Linked DNA regions of Homo sapiens. The protein of the gene in region 2 interacts with the protein of the main gene of each other region in a biochemical or structural test. Each region holds a gene or a part of one and is shown on either strand. Other genes may lie near its edges.

Region 1 (8,097 bases), on a different chromosome or scaffold from region 2:
ATTTAAAAACTAAATTTTCAGGCTGGACATAGTGGCTTACACCTGTAATCCTAGCACTTTGGGAGGCCGAGGTGGGCAGATCATTTGAGGTCAAGAGTTTGAGACCAGCCTGGCCAACATGGTGAAAACCCATCTCTACTAAAAAATTAGCCTGGCATGGTGGCATGCGCCTGTAATCCCAGCTACTTGGGAAGCTGAGGCACGAGAATCACTTGAACCCTGGAGGCAGAGGTTGCAGCGACCCAAGATCGCACCACTGCGCTTCAGCCTGGGTGACAGAACGAGACTCTGTCTCAAAAAAAAAAAAAAAAAAGGCCGGGCGCGGTGGCTCACGCCTGTAATCCCAGCACTTTGGGAGGCCGAGGCGGGTGGATCATGAGGTCAGGAGATCGAGACCATCCTGGCTAACAAGGTGAAACCCCGTCTCTACTAAAAATACAAAAAATTAGCCGGGCGCGGTGGCGGGCGCCTGTAGTCCCAGCTACTCGGGAGGCTGAGGCAGGAGAATGGCGTGAACCCGGGAAGCGGAGCTTGCAGTGAGCCGAGATTGCGCCACTGCAGTCCGCAGTCCGGCCTGGGCAACAGAGCGAGACTCCATCTCAAAAAAAAAAAAAAAAAAAAAAAAAATACGTATATATATATACATATATATATATATATGTATATATATATACGTATTTTTTTTTACCCAATTTTGTTATTTAGGTTTACCAAAATGTGATTAGTTTCTTTTCTTTTCTTTTCTTTTTTTTCAGACAGAGTCTCACTTTGTCACCCAGGTTAGAGTGCAGTGGCTGATCAGCCTTCCAATTCCCAAGTAGCTGGGACTACAGGGGAGTGCTACCATACCAAGCTAATTTTTGTATTTTTTGTAGAGATGGGGTTTGCCATATTGCCCAGATTGGTCTTGAACTCCTGGGCTCAAGGGATCTGCCCACCTGAGCCTCCCAAAGTGTTGGGATTACTGGTGTGAGCCATTGTGCCCTGCTTGATTAGTTTATTTTTTATCCACTGTTCTGCAACTTTTTCCCTACTGAACGATATTTATAAGTTAATATATAGTTGTTCTCATTCTTTTGAATAATGCACTATTTAAATTTTTCATTATTATATAATGATACAGTCAGGTCTCTATATTTGCGGGTTCTGCACCTGCAGATTCAACCAAGCATGGATTGAAAAATCTTTTTAAAATAATAATAATATACCAGGCGAGGTGGCTCACGCCTGTAATCCTAGCACTTTGGGAGGCCGAGGCGGGCAGATCACTTGAGGTCAGAAGTTCAAAACCAACCTGGCCAGCATGGTGAAACTCCATCCCTACTAAAAGTACAAAAAATTAGCCTAGCGTAGTGGCACATGCCTGTAATCCCAGCTACTCAGGAGGCTGAGGCAGGAGAATCGCTTGAACCCGGGAGGTGGAAGCTGCGGTTAGCAGAGAGTGCGCCACTGCATTCCACCCTGGGTGACAGAGTGAGACTCTGTCTCAAAAACAACAACAACAACAACAACAACAAAAATACAGTATAACAACTATTTATATAGCATTTACATTGTGTTAGGTGTTACCAGTAATCTAGAGATGATTTAAAGTATATGGGAGGCCAGGCATGGTGGCTTATGCCTGTAATCTCAGCACTTTGGGAGGCTAAGGAGGGCAGATCACTTGAGGCCAGGAGTTCAAAACCAGCTTGGTCAACATGGTAAAACCCCATCTCTACTAAAAATACAGAAATTAGCTGGGCATGGTGGTGCACACCTGTAATCCCAGCTACTTGGGAGGCTGAGGCAGGAGAATTGCTTGAACCCAGAGGCAGAGGTTGCAGTGAGCTGAGATCATGCCACTGCACTCTTGCCTAGCTAACAGTGAGACTCTATCTCAAAAAAAATAAATAAAGTATATGGGAAGATGTATATAGGTTATACACAAATACTACACCATTTTTTATAAGGGACCTGAGCATCCTCGGATTTTGGTATCTTTAGGGGTCCTGGAACCAATCCCCCCCTCGATAACTGCAGTACATTAGAGACAACTACAGTACATTATTAATCTCCTGTTGATGGCTTCTTGACCATTCCAATTTGTTGCTGCCATGAACATCCTTGTACATAAATATTTGCACACTCATCTCATGCAGGTATTTCTAGAAGGTTAGTACCTCATGGTGGAATTTTAGCAAGCATTTTCTGAGTCTTGTTATTTGCTGGGCCCCCTGGTATGGACCTAGGCCCTGAATGTTGCCTGTCTTGTCTGTCTCTGGGCTTTAACCAGAGATTAATCTGTGAAGGAGCAAGGAAAGGAGGTTCCCCTGGGGTGGGGTTAGGTCTAAAATAGTCACAGTGCTTTCTCCCTCCTGTGCAGATCTGTGCTGTTCTGGCTGCTGTCACTGAGGTGATTCGCTCCCAGGGAGGGAAGGAGACGGAGACTGAGTACTTCGCTGCTCTGGTGAGTGGGTGCCACTGGAGGGTGGGTGTTCAGAGCAGCAGGTTATGCAAGATTTAGCGAGAAGATGAGTGCCCCTGGCATGTGGGGGTAGAGAAGGACAACCTTGACCAGGTGAAAGTGCTTCAGTTATTCTCAGGTGGCTTAGGAAGGCTGGTGGTATTTGCTACCTTTTAATTTTCTCTTTTCTTTTCTTTCTTTCTTTGTTTCTTTTTTTTAAAGAGACAGGGTCTCACTATGTTGTCCAGGCTGGTTTCAAATTCCTGGGCTCAAACCGTCTTGTCATCTTGCGGTGGCCTCCCAAATTGTTGGGATTACAGGCATGAGCCACTGCAACTGGCTACTTATTACTTTTTTTTTTTTTTTTTTTGAGGCGGAGTCTCACACTGTCGCCCAGGCTGGAGTGCAATGGCATGTTCTCAACTTATTGCAACCTCTGCCTCCTGGGTTCATGTGATTCTCCTGCCTCAGCCTCCCGAGTAGCTGGGATTACAGGTGCACACCACCATACCCGGCTTATTTTTTGTATTTTTTAGTAGAGAAGAGGTTTTACTATGTTGGCCAGACTTGTCTCGAACTCCTGACCTCGTGATCTGCCTGCCTCAGCCTCCCAAAGTGCTGGGATTATAGGCCTGAGCCACCAGGCCTGGTCTACTTTTTTTTTTTTTTGAAACAGAGTCTCACTCCGTTGCCCAAGTTGGACTGCAGTGGCACGATCCCAGTTCACTGCAACCTCTGTCTCATGGTATCAAGCAATTCTCATGCCTCAGCCTCCTGAGTACCTGGGATTACAGGCGTGCGCCACCACACCTGGCTGATTTTTGTATTTTTAGTAGAGACAGGGTTTCACCATGTTGGCCCGGCTGGTCTCGAACTCGCAACCTCAGGTGATCCCCCCTACCTCAGCCTCCCAAAGTGCTGGAATTACAGGTGTGAGCCACCATGGCTGGCCTACTTATTACATTAAATAAATAAATATATTTGTGTATGTATGTATGTGTGTGTGTGTGTGTATATGTGTATATATATACTTTTTATTTTGTTTTTGGGTTTTTTTGTTGTTGTTTGTTTTGTTTTGGAGACAGGGTCTCACTTTGTTGCCCAGGCTGGAGTGCAGTGGTGTGATCATGGCTCACTGCAACCTCCACCTCCTGTGTTCAAGTGATGATCGTGCCTTAGCCTCCTGAGTAGTTGGAATTACAGGCGCCTGCCACCATGCCCAGCTAATTTTTGTATTTTTAGTAGAGACAGAGTTTCGTCATGTCGCCCAAGCTTGTCTTGAGCTCCTGAGCTGAATCAGTTCTCCCACTTTGGCCTCCCAAAGTGCTGGGATTACAGGCATGAGCCACCATGCCCAGCCTGGTTATTACATTTTTAAAGAATTGTTAAAACACACACAAAAAGAACATACAACAGAGACCAAGTGTGCATGCAAAGCCGAAAATATTTACTATCTGGTCCTTCGTAGAAAAAGTTTGCCAACCTCTGCTCTAGAATAATGAAATAAATTAGATGGCAGTATATGGTGTTTGGCTGGGTGTGGTGGCTCACGCCTTTAATCCTAGGACTTTGGGAGGCCAAGATCGGAGGAGTGCTTGAGGCTAGGAGTTCGACACCAGCCTGTGCAATATAGTGGGACCCTGTCTCTACAAAAAATAAAATAATTAGCCAAGCTTTGTGGCGCATGCCTGTAGTTCTAGCTGCTTGGGAAGTTGATGTGGGAGGATCTCTTGAGCTTTGAAGTTCAAGGTTACAGTGAGCTATGATTATACCACTGCACTCCAACCTGGGAGACCCTGTCTCTCAAAAAAACTATCTATCTATCTCTGTATATATATGCACATAAACATATATATAGTTTATTTATTTATTTTTTTTGAGACGGAGTCTCACTCTGTCACCCAGACTGGAGTGCAGTGGCACGATCTCAGCTCATTGCAAGCTCTGCCTCCTGGGTTCACGCCATTCTCCTGCCTCAGCCTCCCGAGTAGCTGGGACTACAGGCGCCCGCCACCATGCCTGGCTAATTTTTTGTATTTTTTAGTAGAGACGGTGTTTCACCGTGTTAGCCAGGATGGTCTCGGTCTCCTGACCTCGTGATCTGCCCTCCTCGGCCTCCCAAAGTGCTGGGATTACAGGCGTGAGCCACCACGCCCAGCCACATATATATAGTTTTAATTATGTGTCAGGCAGTATTTTATATATATTAATTCAATTAAACCTCACAACAACGTATAAGGTATGTAGCATTAGTATCCCTACTTTACAAATGAAGAAACTGAGTCACAGATAGGTTAAATTACTAGCCCAAAACCACACAATGCCAGAGTCAGGATCTGAACCTCTGATACCGTGGTTCTCAGTCACAACTGTTCTGCTGGGCACATGTTCCCCCACTCTCTTTCCTGTTTGCTCAGTGTAAGTTTTTATCCATTCAAACCCCCTCAATCTGGCCCTCAGATGACAACAATGGAAGCAGTGGAGTCCCCGGAGTCCCTGGCCGCCGTTGCTTACCTGCTGAACCTTGTCCTGAAGCGGTGAGTTCTGCCTCCTGTTTGAACCCCAAGGCTTTTTGTGGAGGGGAGAAGGGAATGTGGACAGGAGAAACAGGATCAGGGAATTGTTATTTAAAAAGATACTTGCTCTTCATGAACATTGTCTAGAGGCATGCAGAATGGGCCAGCATGTGACATACCGTCGTAGGCCTCTAGTGAGAAACTCTAACTAAACTAGGCTGTCCTGAACCCCTGGTAATAGAATCATTTACCTTTATGCCAAGAAGGTTGGGAAAGCACCAAAATCTTCACGTGGTGTGTGTCCAGGCAGACATTCAGGAGCTCGTGCTGTGAGATCTAAAGTTGTTATTTGATAGTCCAAAACAAAAGGCATGTCTATAGGGCCTGCAGTGCTTCCCTGGTTCCATGTGTGCTCAGTGTGTTCATGACAGAATCAAGTGTGCTTTCCTTATTGAGGAGCAGAAAATCATTGTGAAAGTGTTGAAGGCAAAAGCAGAGTCAGAAAGCTCTATTGAAAATGAAACTTTTTTGGCCTGGTGCGGTGGTTCACACCTATAATCCCAGCACTTTGGGTGGCCGAGGCAGGCAGATCAAGAGGTCAGGAGATCGAGACCATCCTGGCCAACATGGTGAAACCCCGCCTCTACTAAAAATATAAAAATTAGCTGGGTAGGCTACATGCTGTGGCTCACGCCTGTAATCCCAGCACTTTGGGAGGCTGAGGTGGGCAGATCGCCTGTAATCCCAGCACTTTGGGAGGCTGAGGTGGGCAGATCACCTGAGGTCAGGAGTTCGAGACCAAACTGGCCAACATGGTGAAACCCCGTCCCTACTAAAAACACAAAAATTAGCTGGGCATGGTGGCAGGTGCCTGTAATTCAGCTACTCGGGAGGCTGAGGCAGGAGAATTGCTTGAACCCAGTAGGCAGAGGTAGCAGTGAGCTGAGATCATGCCATTGCACTTACAGCCCTGTCAACAGTGCAAGACTCCGTCTCAAAAAAAAAAAAATAGAAAGAAAATGAAATTTGTTTTGAGTAATAAAAATTAAAAGTCATGGCTGGACGCAGTGGCTCATACCTGTAATCCCAGCACTTTTGGAGGCTGAGGCAGGAGGATTGCTTGCGGCCAGGAGTTGGAGACCAGCCTGGCCAACATGGTGAAACCCGATCTCTACTAAAAATACAAAATTAGCCAGGTGTAGTGGTACATGCCTGTAATCCCAGCTACTTGGGAGGCTGAGGCAGGAGAATCACTTGAACACAGAATGTGGAGGTTGCATTGAGCCAAGATCAAGCCACTGCAGTCCAGCCTGGGCAACAGAGTGAGACTCCATCTCAATAAATAAATAAGTAATAAAGTAAAAAATAAAAAACCTTGATTCTTTAAGATGAAAAAGTTCTTGAGATTGGTTGCACAACAATGTGAGTATACTTGGCTGGGTGTGGTGACACATACCTATAATCCCAGCACTTTGGGAGGCTGAGGCAGGTGGACTGTTGAGCCCAGGAGTTCGAAACCAGCCTGGGCAACATGGCAAAACCTTGTCTCTACAAAAAAATACAAAAATGAGCTAGGCGTGGTGGCATGCACCTGTAGTCCCAACTACTTGGGAGGTAGAGGTTGCAGTGAGCCTAATTGTGCCACTACACTCCAGCTTGGGTGACGAGTGAGACCCTGTCTCCAAAAAAAGAAAAAAAAAAAACCCACAACATGAATATACTTAACAGTACTGAATGATATACCGAAAAATATCGTTGAAATGGTGTGTTGTTTTTTTCCTTTTTGAGACAGAGTCTCGCTCTGTTGCCCAGGCTGGAGTGCAGTGGCGCCACCTCCTCCCACTGCAACTCCACCTCCTGGGTTCACACCGTTCTCGTGCCTCAGCCTGTCAAGTAGCTGGGACTACAGGCGCCCGCCACCACGTCTGGCTAATTGTTTGTATTTTTAGTAGAGACCGGGTTTCACTGTGTTAGCCAGGATGGTCTCGATCTCCTGACCTCATGATCCACCCGCCTCGGCCTCCCAAACTGCTGGGATTACAGGCGTGAGCCACTGCGTCCGGCCGAAATGATGTTTTATCTTATGTGTATTTTACCACAATTAGAAATTTATTTATTTATTTATTTATTTTTGAGACAGAGTTTCGCTCTTGTTGCCCAGGCTAGAGTGCAATGGTGCAATCTCAGCTCACCACACCCTCCACCTCCCGGGTTCAAGTGATTCTCCTGCCTTGGCCTCCCAAGTAGCTGGGATTACAGGCGGGCGCCATCACGCCCAGCTAATTTTGTATTTTTAGTAGATACAGGGTTTCTCCATGTTTGTCAGGCTGGTCTCAAACTCCCGACCTCAGGTTATCTGCCCACCTTGGCCTCCCATAGTGCTGGGATTACAGGCGTGAGCCACCATGCCTGGCCAGAAATTTTAAAATACAATTTAAAAGATACTTGTATATCAGGTGGCATTCTACAACATAAGGTCCTGGGTGACTGGGTCATTATACCAGGGAGTGTGAGTGTTGGCCCCCAGAAGGGGCATTCCTGGAGCAGTGAGTGGCAGAAGGGAGGGAAGGAGTAGTTGGCCCCAGGCTTTCTGGAGATGTGAACTGCCAGGGGAGGTGGAGAGAGGATTGGTGTCCTGAGTTTAGGAGTGGGTAGTGGGAAGGTGAGAGAGGCAGGGATCCCGGGTGGAAAGCACACTGAGCTGGCTGATAAGGTGGGTGCCTATTCTGACTTTGTTGCTCACTTTCTGAGTGACTGTGCCACCAGCGCCCCTTGCCCTGTCCTCCTTAGTACCACGAGGGGCTGCACCAGCTGCTCTTCAGGGACCCTCTGGGGTGACCATCTCTGTTCTTTCCCACAGTGTTCCCAGCCCTGTGCTTATTAAGAAGTTCTCTGATACCTCCAAAGCCTTCATGGATATCATGTCAGCTCAGGCCAGCAGCGGCTCCACCTCTGTCCTCCGATGGGTTAGTGTCTGGGGTTTAGTTTCTCATCTGGCGACTCCCAGAGCCTGTCTGATTTGGTGATGCTTAGATGTTCCCTGAGAGGGGTTTAGGCACCCTGGGGACCTCAGACAGATGCGATTTTCTGGAGTCAGTGAGAACCTGGGCTCTTTTCCCTCCTGGCCGAGGCTGG
Region 2 (8,513 bases):
GTTTCATAATATCGAGTGTTCGAGGACGGAGGGAGCTGATGGGTGGGTGTGAACTGGCCCAGCCGCCTTGGAGGACAACTGAGGGTTGGGAAAGTCAAGTGGGACATGTGTGTGGTTCCAACTACCCACCCTCCCGCCCACAGGGCATGGGGAGCCACTGTCCACGGCACGGCTGGGGCACAGGCTGTGTGGTGGAGCATAGAGGCGCTACCTGGGCACTGGGGAGGTATGTGGACAAAACAAAGCAAAGCAAGGGATGGAGAGTGACCGGGGGAGGCCTCCAGGAGTGGGAGGGCCCTGCAACGGGAGGAACAGCAAGGACAAACTTTGCAAGCTTGTCCTCATAAAGGCAAGGTGGGGTGGCGCGTGCAGATCCACAGGGGAAATTTCAACACATATTGGGGAAAAAAAGCAAATTGAGGGAAAAAATCCACACATACAGAAAACATGCATTTCTAAAGATCCTAAGGAATCTACAAAATGACTACCAGACCTAATGCATGATATTAGTAAATTCATAGGATACAAGATTAGTATTTTAAAAAACCAATTGTATTTTAACATACTAGCAGAGAGCTGAGAAAAAACTGCATTTATGACAGCATAAAAAACTATAAAATACTTAGCAATAAGCTTATTATAAGATGTAAGATCTCTACACTAAAACTGAATAACATTGATGATGAAATTTAAATGGTGAGATATACTATGTTCATGAATTTGAAGATCTGCTTTGCTAAGATGGTAATTCTGAACTGATCTATAGATTCAATGAAATCCCAATCATAACCCCACTAGGTTTTTGTTGTTGTTTTTAAAGAAATAGACAAGCTAATGATAATTTATATGGAAATGCCAAGGACTTAGAATATCCAAAACAACCTCAAGACAGACGAACCAACAAAAAGGACTTATGTTATCTGACTTCCAGATTAATCCTAAAGCTATGGTAATCAAGACAGTCTGGTTTTTGCTAAGGTACAACAAATAGATCAATGGAACAGAAGACAGCCTAGAAACAGATCCACACTTATGAGACTTTCTGATTTTTCACAAAGGCAACAAAACAATCCAATAAGGAAAGAAAAGTACTTATAACAAATGGTGCTGGAACAGCTGAATATCCATATTAGGGGGAAAAAAGGAACTTAACCACTAACACCACATAGACAAACAATTCAAGATAGAAAAAAAAAACCAATATGAAAGCTCAAACTATAAAGTTTTTAGAAGAAAACAGGAATAATATCTTCATGACTTGGGATTAGGCAAAGTTTTCTTAAATAGGACACACACACATACATATACACACACACAATAACTAATATAAATTAAACTTCTCAAAATTAAACTCTCGTTTATTTAAAAAAAAAAAAAAAGTTCTCACGCCTGTAATCCGAGCACTTTGGGAGGCCAAGGCGGGCGGATCACGAGGTCAAGAGATCGAGACCATCCTGCTAACACGGTGAAACCCCATCTCTACTAAAAATACAAAAAAATTAGCCGGGCACGGTGGCGGGTGCCTGTAGTCCCGGCTACTCAGAAGGCTGAGGCAGAAGAATCGCTTGAACCCAGGAGGTGTTGCTTGCAGTGAGCCAAGATCGCACCACTGCACTCCAGCCTGGCGACAGAGCAAGACTCTATCTCAAAAAAAAAAAAAAAGAAAGAAAATGAACAGGCAAGTCACAGTCTGGGAAAAACATCTGTAAAACACATATCCAACCAAAGACTGGACTCTAGGACAAAGAACTCTTAGAGCTCAATAATAAAAAGACAAAAAGCCTCATGAAAAATGAATTTCACTGACGCTGAAACACAAATGGACAGTAAGCACATGTAAATGCTCTTTTGGTGGCAACGGAAATGAGTACCACCGTGAGATACCATTTCATGATTACCAGACGGCCGAGGCTGAGGAGACGGCAGGCCATGTGTTGGCAAAGCTGAGGGCCAGGAGAACTCTCACAGGCTCTGGTGGGAGTGTGAGTGTACAACCACTCTAGAAAAGCGTCTGGCAGCTGCTTATAAAACTAAACATACACCTACCCTATGACCCAGCATTCCATTCCTCAGCACTTACCCAAGAGAAACGAAAACATGTCCACAAAAAGACTTGTAAAGAATGTTCAGAGCAGCCTTATTCACAGTAGCTAAAAATGGAAAAAAGCCCAGGTGCCCATCAGCAGGAAAGTGAGTAACAAATGGTGTATTCATACAATGAAATACTTCTCAGCAATCAAAAGGCATGGACTGCTGCTACATGCAGCCTGGATGGGTTTCAAAACCATTACGCTGAGCAAAAGCAGCCAGATGCAGAAAGAGTGCATCCTACATGATTCCATTTATACAGAGTCTAAGGCAAGAAAAGCTCAACTGTGGACGACAAAGGGTGACACAGCAGTTGTTACCTCTGGGGCCAGTGGGAGAGGTAATTGACTGGGGGGGTGCGTGACTGTCGGGGAATGGTGGTGATGGTCCATAACCTGAACAGGATTTCAGCTGCACAGGTGTCTACAACATTTGTCAGCAATCATTGAATGGCACACTTTAGATTTGCATTTCATTTTATGTAAATACAATCTTCAAAAGAAAAAGAAAAAAAAAGAACCATGAACTCTAGCAGAATTATTTGGGGTGGAGTGTACTGATGTCTGCCATTTACTTTGAAACGCATTTTTAAAAACCCATGTTGGTAGATGGACAGAAACTGCTAGATGAACGGTTATGTAATAAAGATTGTAAAATCTGTGTGGTGGGTACAGGGTATTCCCTATAAAATTCTTCCCACTTTCCTAAATAAAATTTTTCATAATAAAATACAAAGTAAAAGTAACTTGGGAAATGTAGCTAAAGCTGTATTTAGAGATAACTTACAGCCTTTCACTCCTGAACAAAACATATACAAACAGATAAGCAGAGTAACTGAAACCCAAAGAAAGCTAAAACGGGAGTGATCAAAATAAAAACAAATAATTTTGAAGACAAAAGAGTAGAATTGGTTATTAAATACATTAATTATTAAATGGAAGAGACAAAACTTCTTAATTTAATCAGAAATGAAGGTGGAGATACAAATAAAGAACGATAAAGAAAACAGAATATTTAATAAGAAGGCAACTAACATATGAAGATTGAGATCTGACTAAATTTGATCATTAACATTATTTAGAGACAAGGACCCACTCTGTCACCCAGGCTGGAGTGCACTAGTGCAATTACGGTTCACTGCAGCCTCAAACTCCTGGGTTGAAGCGATCTTCCTACCTCAGCCTCCTAAGTCGCTAGGACTAGAGGCTCAGAGGCATACACCACCTAATCTGACTAATTTTTACATTTTTTGTAGAGACAAGGTCTCGCTATATTGCCCAGGCTAGTCTGAAACTCCTGGGCGTAGGTGATCCTTCCATCTCAACCTTCCAAAGTGCTGGGATTACAGGCATGAGACACCATCCTCAGACAAATTCGATCATTTTATGAGTGGCCAAAATTGACTCAAGTTGTGAAAAAACAAAAAAAAAGGACCAAGTGCCATGGAATAAAATTTACACATCATCAAAGAATTACAGCCTAGAAAATCAGGGTCCAAATGGCCACAGTCCAGTAGCCCGTCCAAATCCACTTTCACAGCTATGCTAGGAACTGTGAAAAAGAAAATGGAGGAATGAATCATTTCCCTAAGAAATATCCAAAAAGGGATAGAAACCATAAAACTAATAATCACAAAAGAAACTGACAAAGTTTTCTAGGTCCTACCTCTGAAAAACATACATTTTCTTTAAAACCTCCAAGGAAAAAATAAAGCAGATAACATAAAAAAGAAAATATTCCAAATTAATTTCACAAAGTCAGCAGAATCACACTAAAAAGATAACCGAAAAATACAAAATAATTTTGACGAGAAACAATCTTAGAAAAACACTGGCAAATATCCAGCATCACGAAAAATAAGGAGATACTCCAAAACAACCTGAGTGGGAAGTGTGGCTTTCAGCCTGCGGAGACGTGCAGCTGGGAGCACGTGGCAAGGCTGACCTCAGAAAAGAGGGAGCCACAGGCCTGAAAGGGTCTGGGGACACCAGGGGCCCTGCCCACACCCACGCCGCTATGCGCAGACACTGTTTTCACCGCGGGCAAGGCCTGGAAGGATTTCACATACCACTGCAGGCACTTCTGAACCATAAAAACTCCACGAGCACAGGTTACTTCCACAATAAAAAATTTCACGGTGGGGAACAAAAATAGGTAATTTTTACAAACAAGGAGCCGAGAGCAGCAGCTTCCCAAGGCCGTCCTCCAAAGGGAGGCAGCCCAGCTCTGCAGGTGCCCACACGGACGGGGTGGCAGTGCCATCCACAACAGGCCAGACCAGCTTGGCCATGCTGCCAAGTCTTCATGGCCAACCTCTCTGTGCCTCCACTGTCCTTCGGCCCCCACAGCAGCCTCTGAAGTGTCTTGGGTGATCCCCTTGGGCACTCCTCGGGGAGTGTGGCTGATGTAGAAGGCCAGATGTGAGGCTGTAGGAATAGGAGGGCCCACGGGATGGGACTTGGGCCGGCAGCTGCCTCAAGACGCAGGCATGGACTTACTCTGCAACCATTGCTCACGCCTCAGCTTCATTTTCTCCTTCTTGGGCAAAACGGTCTTGGCCTCTGCACCTGAGGAAAGAGAACACGGGAGTGAGCAAAACGTGTCCAGGTGGCACTCCCATGACCTGAGAATGGGCTGGGGCGGGTCCTGACTGCAGAGCTGCCACAGTCACTGCAACTGGTCTGGCCTGTGCCAGCCTCTCAGACTCCCGGCTCTGGACAGCACCAGGGGCACCTGCAGCATGCCTCGGCCCGGCCTCAGGAGGCTCTCTCAGCAGCGTCCCCCCGCAGTGATGGCCTGGCCACTCACCCCAGCCTGCCCCGGAAAGCAGGTGTCCCAACAAGGAGGCCTCCTCCCCACTCATGCCCCGAATGACTGTCAGGGCAGTCATTGCAGTGAAGCCATGCAGGAATGCCCGACGGCTCATGAAGGGGGCCACGAACAGGACAGAGGCCCTTAGGGGGACATCCCCAAGATCCTGTGTGGTCACGTCAGGCCCAGCGACGTACGTGCTCCCTGCCCCCTGCCAGGCCCGACAATGTGCTCGGTGACCAGAGGCTTCATCCCTGGACCCCACAAAGCGGCCCTCTCAGGGAGCCTCCAAAAGTGAACTCCACAGGTGCCCCTGTGCTTGGTCCACGCGGAGCCCAGCCACCTGCCCGGTGGGCGGGGAAAGGAGGCTCATTTGCTGGGGGGACAGGGGCAGGGGTGGGATGAGCCTGCAGGGCCGTGCAGGTGGGGACAGGTGGAGAGGGCACTGGGTGCTGCGTCTCTGACTCCAGTTTGCTCTGAAACAGAGTGGACTCAAGGGCACCCCCATTTCCTCGGCCTTAACTGATTTCCCGAGACGGTTCAGCCTCGGCTGCATTCTCCCCAGAACACATCTCCCAGTATCTCTTTTAATTCATGCAGACCTTCCTGGCTTGTCCAACAAATCCACCATGTCTAATGAAAAACAAAGCAGAAGCAAGCCCTGCCTGGAGAAAGGCAGTCGCTGCGCTCTGCATTTCAGACTTCACTTCAGGAGCCGGTGTGAAACCTCCAAGGCCCAGGGCTCCCGCAGGATTTAATCCCCTCCCACAGCTTCCTGGTGTGCCTGGGTTGACCTACTTTCCTCCATAGCATCCCAACCTCTCCCTCCCGACCACAAAGGGGAGGGGCTGATTTTGCAGCTTTTCTGTAGTTTTGAAATTGTTTCAAAAGAAAAATGAATCTAAGACCAGTGGAAACTGACCCGAACAGTGACCTGTGTTGTGTTGGAATGAAGAAAACGAGGCCTGGGCGCAGGCCAGGTCAGGAACACAGCACAGTGATCCTTCCCGGCTCTGGCCCCAGGGAGCTCCCCAGCCCCATTGCCATGGCACCAGGACAACAGGAACCAAACACGCTGCTCCTGCAGGAGGAGAGGGCTTGGAATGCTGCAGCTGGAGCAGAGGCCGCCTGGAACTGCTGGCGGCGGCCCCACGACCCCCAGCTCCCGCCGCTTTCCGGGCCCAAGGCGCCCTTGCTGAAGTGCTCCGGCACAGGTTCACGCCTGCTCCCCCTTCTAGCCTCTGGATGGGCTGACGGGTGTTCACTGAGATCCAGTCGGTGCCGCGGGCTACGGAGGGGGCTCGCCCTGTGGGTCCTGATTCCCTCTCCCCCGCAGGCCCAAGGCCACATGGACAGGGCAGGTGGGCGCACCCCACCCTGTGGTGGGGACAGTGTGAAGTCCGCTCGAGCTGCTCCGGTTTCTAAACTTACCTACGACAAGGCCAGCACACCACAGCTCTCGCCGGTGCTGCGGAAGCACAGGAGCGTCCCGTGGGTGCAGCAGAAATGCCAGCTTGGAGGAGGGCCGGGCTGGGAGTGCAGATGCTGGGCCTCAAGCAAGGGTGTCGGGAGCTGCTACTGTCCTGGGCCTCGCCCCAAACCCAGATCCCAGCAGCACCAGCACTACAGCCCCAGTGGCTATGGGGAGGGGAAGGTCACCAAACACGTCTGATTAGTGACAAAGTGACGGCAGCAGGGGCCACACCTGAGGCAGGTCATCCGCCGAGCCCGAGCTCCTCACACAGGGCCTGAAGTCCGAGTGGGCACCAGGAATACCAAGCCAGAGCTGACAGTAAAAACGACTTCATACAATCGCCGGCCAGCCGAGCTGAGGCTACAGAAGGGTGCACACTCAGAAGGGCAGAGGCGGCTGCGACCTCGGCTTCCCGCTCTAGGCAGACAGGCTTCTTCCTCTGTGCCCTGTCTGCTTCACATCCTAGGCCACCTGCTGCACGGGCGGCTCACACACTGCCACTCCTTCTGGCCCGCTCAGTCCACAGCTCAAAGGTGTCAGGAGACGGGCAAGTCCCCATTAAACTGAACCTCACAGAACCCCAGCCAGTGGCTGAGGCAAGGCTAGACGAGGTGCTCATACCCTCATTCCCCACAAAACCGAGACAGGACCCCCCCAAGACAGAGCCCAGGCCTCCCTGTGGGGGAACATGCTGCAGGTGCCATCCACTCCCCCTCACACTCGGTGGAACCCTCTGGGGCCACCTGTTGCTACTGGCAGTGAACAAGCCCAAAGGGTGAAAGACAAGGCCGCAGGGCATGAGGTGGCTCCTGCGATCTGGGTCCTGGGACCCGGTGGTATCCAGGGTGCTCCTGGCTGCCACAGCGCCTGTATCTGAGCTGGACTGCAAGGCACAGGGCAGATGGATGGTGGAGATGAAGAGGAGGAGGATGAGGAGAAGCCGTGCCCTTGCCTGAGTCTTCAGGAGCCCAGGATGCAGCTGCCACGGAGCGATCTGCATAGAGGCACCGGGCTCACGAGCAGCGTGTGGGGACTGACCGTGTGGGACAGCCCCTCTGGCCCAGTGGGAGGCACTCTGAGGAGGACTCAAGGGCCGTTCAAGGAACAGCCCCTCTAACCCTTGACTCTGGAAGACCCCGCCTCAGCCCTGCCCTTGGGGAGTGACTAGAAACCTGCCCTGAGCTGACTCATCACAGAGCTCTGGGGGTGGCTCTGGTCCCTGGAACGCCGGCCGGCCCGGCAAAAACCTGCAGCATGAGCTGAATGGCCCCGCACAGAGAGAGGGATGGGTGCACGCAGGTACAGGCTGCCTAAAAACCCTGACAAGAAAAGGGAAGGTGAGACGCTGCCGCGCAGGAGCCAGGGCCCGTGCTCTGGAGCTGCAATTCCAGGTACACTGGGCAAGGCAACCGCCTCGCCAGAACCACAGCCTTCCCAGCTGCCACGGTGCTGCCTGGGCTCTTGCGCTCTAACAAAGGGGCCCCGGGAACAGACGCGGTAAACCAGCCTCAGTGGAGGAAGCCACACATGGCAGCTACACAGCACGCCTGTGCCGCAGGCAACTCACCTGGTCCCCAGCCCTCACCAGGTCAGCAGACACAGAACCAGGCTCACCAGAGTTGGGCCGTGGGGTGACACGGTTCACGGGGCACGTGTTCTGATGGACCCTAAGGAAAATCAGCATGAGACCGGCTTTTCCGTGCACGCCATCAACAAGCCTTGATTCTCACTCCACAAAGATCTGCATGAGGCTCAGGACAGAACACACTACGCGATGCTGCTGGCACGTGCTGCTTCATCTCGGGCTCGGGTGCCGGGAGATGCTGCGGCCTACAGAGCCACTCAGATGCTGCCAACACCACCCAGGTCACCAGCTGAAGCGGCACATGCCAGCAGCATCTCGTGGTGCCGAGGTTCTTCTCGCCACGCCTTCTGGGTGAATGCAAGCTGAAATGCATCGTGGGACAGGCCGTTTGGGGAAAAATGAAGTGGGAATCATCCGTCTCACTCTATACACAAAAATAAAGTCCTGATGGATTAAATACATTAAAAAGGCACTACTACAAAACCACTGCAGAGGACACAAAGGGGCCACAAAAGACACAGAAAACACCGAATTTGCTACAGAGAAACTTTAAAC
Region 3 (5,072 bases), on a different chromosome or scaffold from region 2:
TGCTTCATCAAGACTCATGGCCTAGTCTTTTTCTCTTAATTGCAAAATATATAATATATGGATTTAAACACAGTGAAGTTAGCACCTCATAACACAGAATTTGAGTAACATGACAAAGAAACATCCAATGCCTATTAAGACTCTTGCTGTTTTTGAGAATCTTCAGTTGAGACAGCTATCAAAATAAATGGCCAATCCTTTTAGTACTTACATTCTCAATATTGACATAAACCATCATCTGACCCTTTACTTCACAGGTTGGCATTTAAATACATTCTCTCCAGTATCCTACTTCTGCAATGACAAGCTCTTCAGTCAAGATTTTTTTCTAGCCAATGTTGGTAGAATACCTAATGCCATCAGTTTTGACAACTCTTTAAAAATCCTACAATACTTAGATTTAAACGGATCACACATGGTAGAACAAGCTAATACCTACCAGCTTTGGAAAAGCCATAAATGAATGATTACAGATGAAGGCATTTTCTAATAATTTAGATATCAAGTGCAGCTCACCTGCCAAAAATGGTTCTGCCCCAGCCATTCTGTTCCTAACTCAGAGCAACAGTGTTCACAGATTTTTACAGCCCAGTCCAGATAACATCATACTAGTCAAGAACATAAACCAGGACCACTAATCTGTTGCAAGAAGTCATAGTTTACCAAATAATCAACAATTGTGATGATGTCATTGCCTAAACCTTGAAAAAGTTTAAATCAGTTAAAACAAAAATCAACTCATCAAAAACAGGGAAAGTTTTCAACGATGTATTTTAATCAAGTATGAATGGTTCCAAGCATTAACTGATGTTGAAAAGACAAACTCCCCAGTTTAAACTGAAATAAATATTTCTGATTTTGAACTAGGGACTCACTGAAGCCAAATAAGTTTTCTTATTTCCTTGACTATTCTGTTTCCTGCCTTCACTGTTCCTAAATCCCAAAAGCAAGTCATCCAGTAATATAACAGGAAATATGAATCTTAAGAACCTTAATATTCAGTTTTGCCACACTTTTGAAACAGTCCTTTGTATACAGCAAGGGAAAACTTAGCTTCCTAACAGTGGAACCTTCTCAGAAAAACTCATCTTACACTAAACAGAATAAAGTCAGCATTTCAAAATTGAGTTTAACCAGGCCACTTTTCTATTTACAGCAAATTAAACCATGTAATTCCTGAAAAGGCGTGGAGAGGATTCAAAGAAATATTTGAAAACATCTGCAAAAAACAACTATGACAACCATACAAATAAATGAATACACCAATTCCATTCACGTTATGAAGATATTTTCCTTTAATTTATCAAACATTTCACATTCATGAAGTCATTTACTTCAGAGCAAATGTAAGCTTATAATATTAAAAATTAAAGTATTACAATATTTACAAGATGGTTGGCAGGGGACACTTACTAGTATAAAAATAATACAAATATTGTATTTTCCTCTTATCTGCCAGTAAAAATGGCAAACAGTTTTGTCTTTCTGAAGTTTCTAGTCAATAACCAAAGATGAGGAGCCCCTAATAAAGTGCCTTGCCCTGTATGCTCCACTGTCTATAGCTTTAGACCCTCAACATTCTTCTTCAAGTTCAGCAGCTCTTTTTCTTGCCTTCTTTTCTCCAGTTTAAATGCTAATTTGTTAGCTTTCTTCTCCACTCTTCGTTCCTGTTATAAGTACAAGAATATACTTGTATTATTCACATCTTTAAACTGATACAGACTGCTTTTACAAAATTCCCCTAATTTCCCCTCCACCAGCTCTTTGTAAATCTCACATTTGAAAAATATATTTTACCTTGCGCTCTTCTTTTATAGCTTGCTTTCTTGCTCTTTTATCTTCTTTGCTTTCATTTTTAGAACGTGGCTGAGTTGATACTTTAGGAAGATCACTGCCATTAATCATCTGTATTCTTTCAGTTTGCTTTGCTGTGAGTCCTTTCTTTGGTAAGACATTGAGAGGTATTCCTGTTTTAGAAGATATTCGAATTTGTTTGGGCTGAAATACAGATAAAATGGTACTAGAGTTACTTCTCATTCCTATTAAAAAATAGCTCATTAATGACATACTGTTGATGCTTTTTCTAATATCACTCTAGCCATAAAGATAAAAAGTTATTGTGCGAAAATGTGCACTCTATTTTTTATGCACTGCATCCTTCAAATAGCTCAGCACACTAGGACTTACCTTTGGTTGATACTTGATAAGCTGTGGATGGTTATATAAATTTGAGTATGTACCTAAACAAACAAATAAAAGTCATGTATCAGTAAGCATGTTTTCAGTTCCACAAAGCATTACTGAATTCCTACTATATTTCTGACCTTGTGTTTTCATAGTGCAAAATAACACTGGAGTCTCTGATCAATGTTTTATAAATTGCTTACAACTCAGTATTGGAATATTACTCTTTCCAAATAATTTTTCACAAATTTCCTAAAAGCCTAACTCTTATTAAAATATATGTATTTTTTCAAAGTTGATATATGTTTTTTTTTAGACAGAGTTTTGCTCTTGTTGCCCAGGTTGGAGTGCAATGGCATGATCTCGGCTCATTGCAACCTCTGCCTCCCAGGTTCAAGCTATTCTCCTGCCTCAGCCTCTCGAGCAGCTGGGATTACAGTTGCCTGCCACCATACCTGGCTAATTTTTGTATTTTTTAGTAGACACGGGGTTTCACCATGTTGGCCAGGCTGGTCTTGAACTCCTGACATCAGGTGACCCACCCGCCTCGGCCTCCCAAAGTGCTGGGATTACTACAGGCGTGAGGCACCGCACCCAGCCTAAAGTTGATATACTTTAATACTTTAAAATTACTATCATAAAGTGAATATACTTACTACAAATAGATTCACAATCCCACTTCTCTTTGGCTTCTTCAAGGACTACAGTAATCATTTCTTCCTCCTCAGACTCATCAAGCTCATTCATTGGCAGGTCTTGATCCTCCAAGGGTTCAAGGGTATTCAATTTTACACAACTTTTAGACGAGTTTTTAAAAGTGAAGACCAAGAGGGGGAAAAATGACCTATTATTATACTATGTCACTAAAACTGCAATTTTTAGCTGTGGAAAAACCAATGTTTTAAATGCACATATTCCAGTGACCCATCCGTTATTTTCTGTCAAACTCTGTTCTACCCAGCCCTGCCTCTTCCCTCCAGTGAGTTTTGGACATTCACTCGGCTGATAGGAAGGTAACATCTAGCTGTGTCTTTCCAAGGCAGCTTCCTAAGAAAACAGGTTTTTAAAGCCTAAAAAAGCATAACTCATCTGTCTCTGCAAAGTATTCGAATATTTCACTCAACTATATAGCTTCTTTTTCTGCTATGGGATCTATATATTATAGTGATCATGGAACATCAGACCTTTCTAGCTGATTTGAACACTTCATCAGTTTCTCTCAGAGAAGAGTCACCTTGATGTGGATGCTGATTTGCCAAAATAACTGGCTGGTCAGTTCCGCTAATCCAGCTGGAGAGACAAATTCTTGTCTTTCCACGAGATGTAAATACCTACTTCTCAGAACACCTGGCATTTCAGAAAGATGAAAAAAGCGTATGCTTGGAATAATTCTTCAGCCCAAAAGACTAGAAACACGATCTTATTTTCCAAGGGGAATGTGTCCCTTTATTTCTTTTTTTTTTTTTGAGACAGAGTCTCGCCCTGTCACCCAGGCTGGAAGCAGTGGTGCTATCTCAGCTCACTGCAACCTCTGCCTTCCAGGTTCAAGTGATCCTGTCTCAGCCTCCCAAACAGCTGGGATTACAGGTGTACACCACCACGCCCAGCCTGTCCTTATATTTCACACCCTAATAATATTCATGCTTCTATCAAAACAAAACTTTTAAGCAAAATAAATAAAAGTTAAAAAAAAATTAAAAATTGGCCAGGCACAGTGGCTCAGACCTATAATCCCAGCACTTTGGGAGACCGAGGCAGGCATATTACATGAGGTCAAGAGTTTGAGACCAGCCTGGCCAACATGGTGGAACCCCATCTCTACTAAAAATACAAAAATTAGCTGGGCATGGTGGTGTGCACCTGTAATCACATCTGCTCAGGAGGCTGAGGCAGGAGAATCACCTGAACCTGGGAGGCGGAGGTTGCAGGTGAGCTGAGATCGCACCACTGCATTCCAGCCTGGGCAACAGAGCAAGACTCCGTCTCAAAAAAAAAAAAAAATTTAATAAACGAATACACATTCTACCATGACTCTTCTCCAGTCAAAGATACGGAGAAAGTGGCTCCTCGTATATTCCCATTACGTTCTACTTCAGAACATTTAACACCAAAATGTAGGCAAAACAATGAGCTATACATGACCCAAGTTTATGGAAAATGTACCACTTTCTTTTTTCCGCCCTATCTTTTTTTTTCCCCTTTTCTTTTTTCCTTTTTCATTTTCTCAATATGTATTTTGACTAGGTTAATTTTTTCCTCAATTCAGTTATACTATAGACCTTTCTTTGGAATTTTTTCTTTTTTAAAAAAAAGAACAGCTAAACAAGGAAGGAAAAGTCACTATACTTCTCTGCCTTCTCTTTATAGTAGTCATTCAAAACTTCCTGTAAGCGATTGCTGTCCACTTGAATAGAACCTTCCAATTCTGCATTATCCAGAGCTCCAATTTCATCATCATCATATTGCTCATAAAACTTGAATATAAACAGAGAAAAGATACCATGAAAAGCAAATGTACTCAGTAAGACTACACACTTAAAAATTTTTTTACATTAACTTTATTCTTACACAATAGTTATTCAGGTACTATCACAATTACCATTAAAATATCAGTAGGGATTTAATGCAACAATAGGATGTGGAAGATATTTCTGCTCAGTACTTTAAGACTTACATTTAGCCTAAAAATAGGCTTCCATTTAACATGTAAATGAAAGGCATTATTCCACTCAGCTTGGAGAACAAAATGCTAGGCAGCACAGATTACGTCAGAACATTTTTGAAGATACTTTTTCTTTTTTTTAAGTATCTCACTGTCTCCCAGCCTGGAGTACAGTGGCGTGATCATAGTTCACTGCAGCCTCAAACTCTCAGGCTCAAGCAATCTT

Evidence for each region. Proteins that work in one complex are often made in the same cells at the same time.
Region 1: the proteins of SLX9 (region 2) and RRP12 are reported together in a solved structure, tested with the Homo sapiens proteins (one study listed by BioGRID).
Region 3: the proteins of SLX9 (region 2) and LTV1 are reported together in a solved structure, tested with the Homo sapiens proteins (one study listed by BioGRID).

What each region holds. Positions count from the first base shown.
Region 1 is NC_000010.11:97,390,570-97,398,666, reverse strand, and holds part of RRP12 (RRP12-like protein), read left to right. Parts: intron 1-2,365; coding exon 2,366-2,449; intron 2,450-4,906; coding exon 4,907-4,983; intron 4,984-7,822; coding exon 7,823-7,928; intron 7,929-8,097.
Region 2 is NC_000021.9:44,956,242-44,964,754, reverse strand, and holds part of SLX9 (ribosome biogenesis protein SLX9 homolog), read right to left. Parts: intron 6,058-8,513; exon of another isoform or gene 5,822-6,057; intron 4,656-5,821; coding exon 4,587-4,655; intron 1-4,586. UniProt on the Homo sapiens protein: May be involved in ribosome biogenesis.
Region 3 is NC_000006.12:143,860,012-143,865,083, reverse strand, and holds the end of LTV1 (protein LTV1 homolog), read right to left. Parts: intron 4,659-5,072; coding exon 4,531-4,658; intron 2,981-4,530; coding exon 2,841-2,980; intron 2,241-2,840; coding exon 2,188-2,240; intron 1,999-2,187; coding exon 1,798-1,998; intron 1,668-1,797; coding exon 1,557-1,667; 3' UTR 1,272-1,556; downstream 1-1,271. Other genes in the region: ZC2HC1B (zinc finger C2HC domain-containing protein 1B), read right to left, coding at 517-544. UniProt on the Homo sapiens protein: Essential for ribosome biogenesis.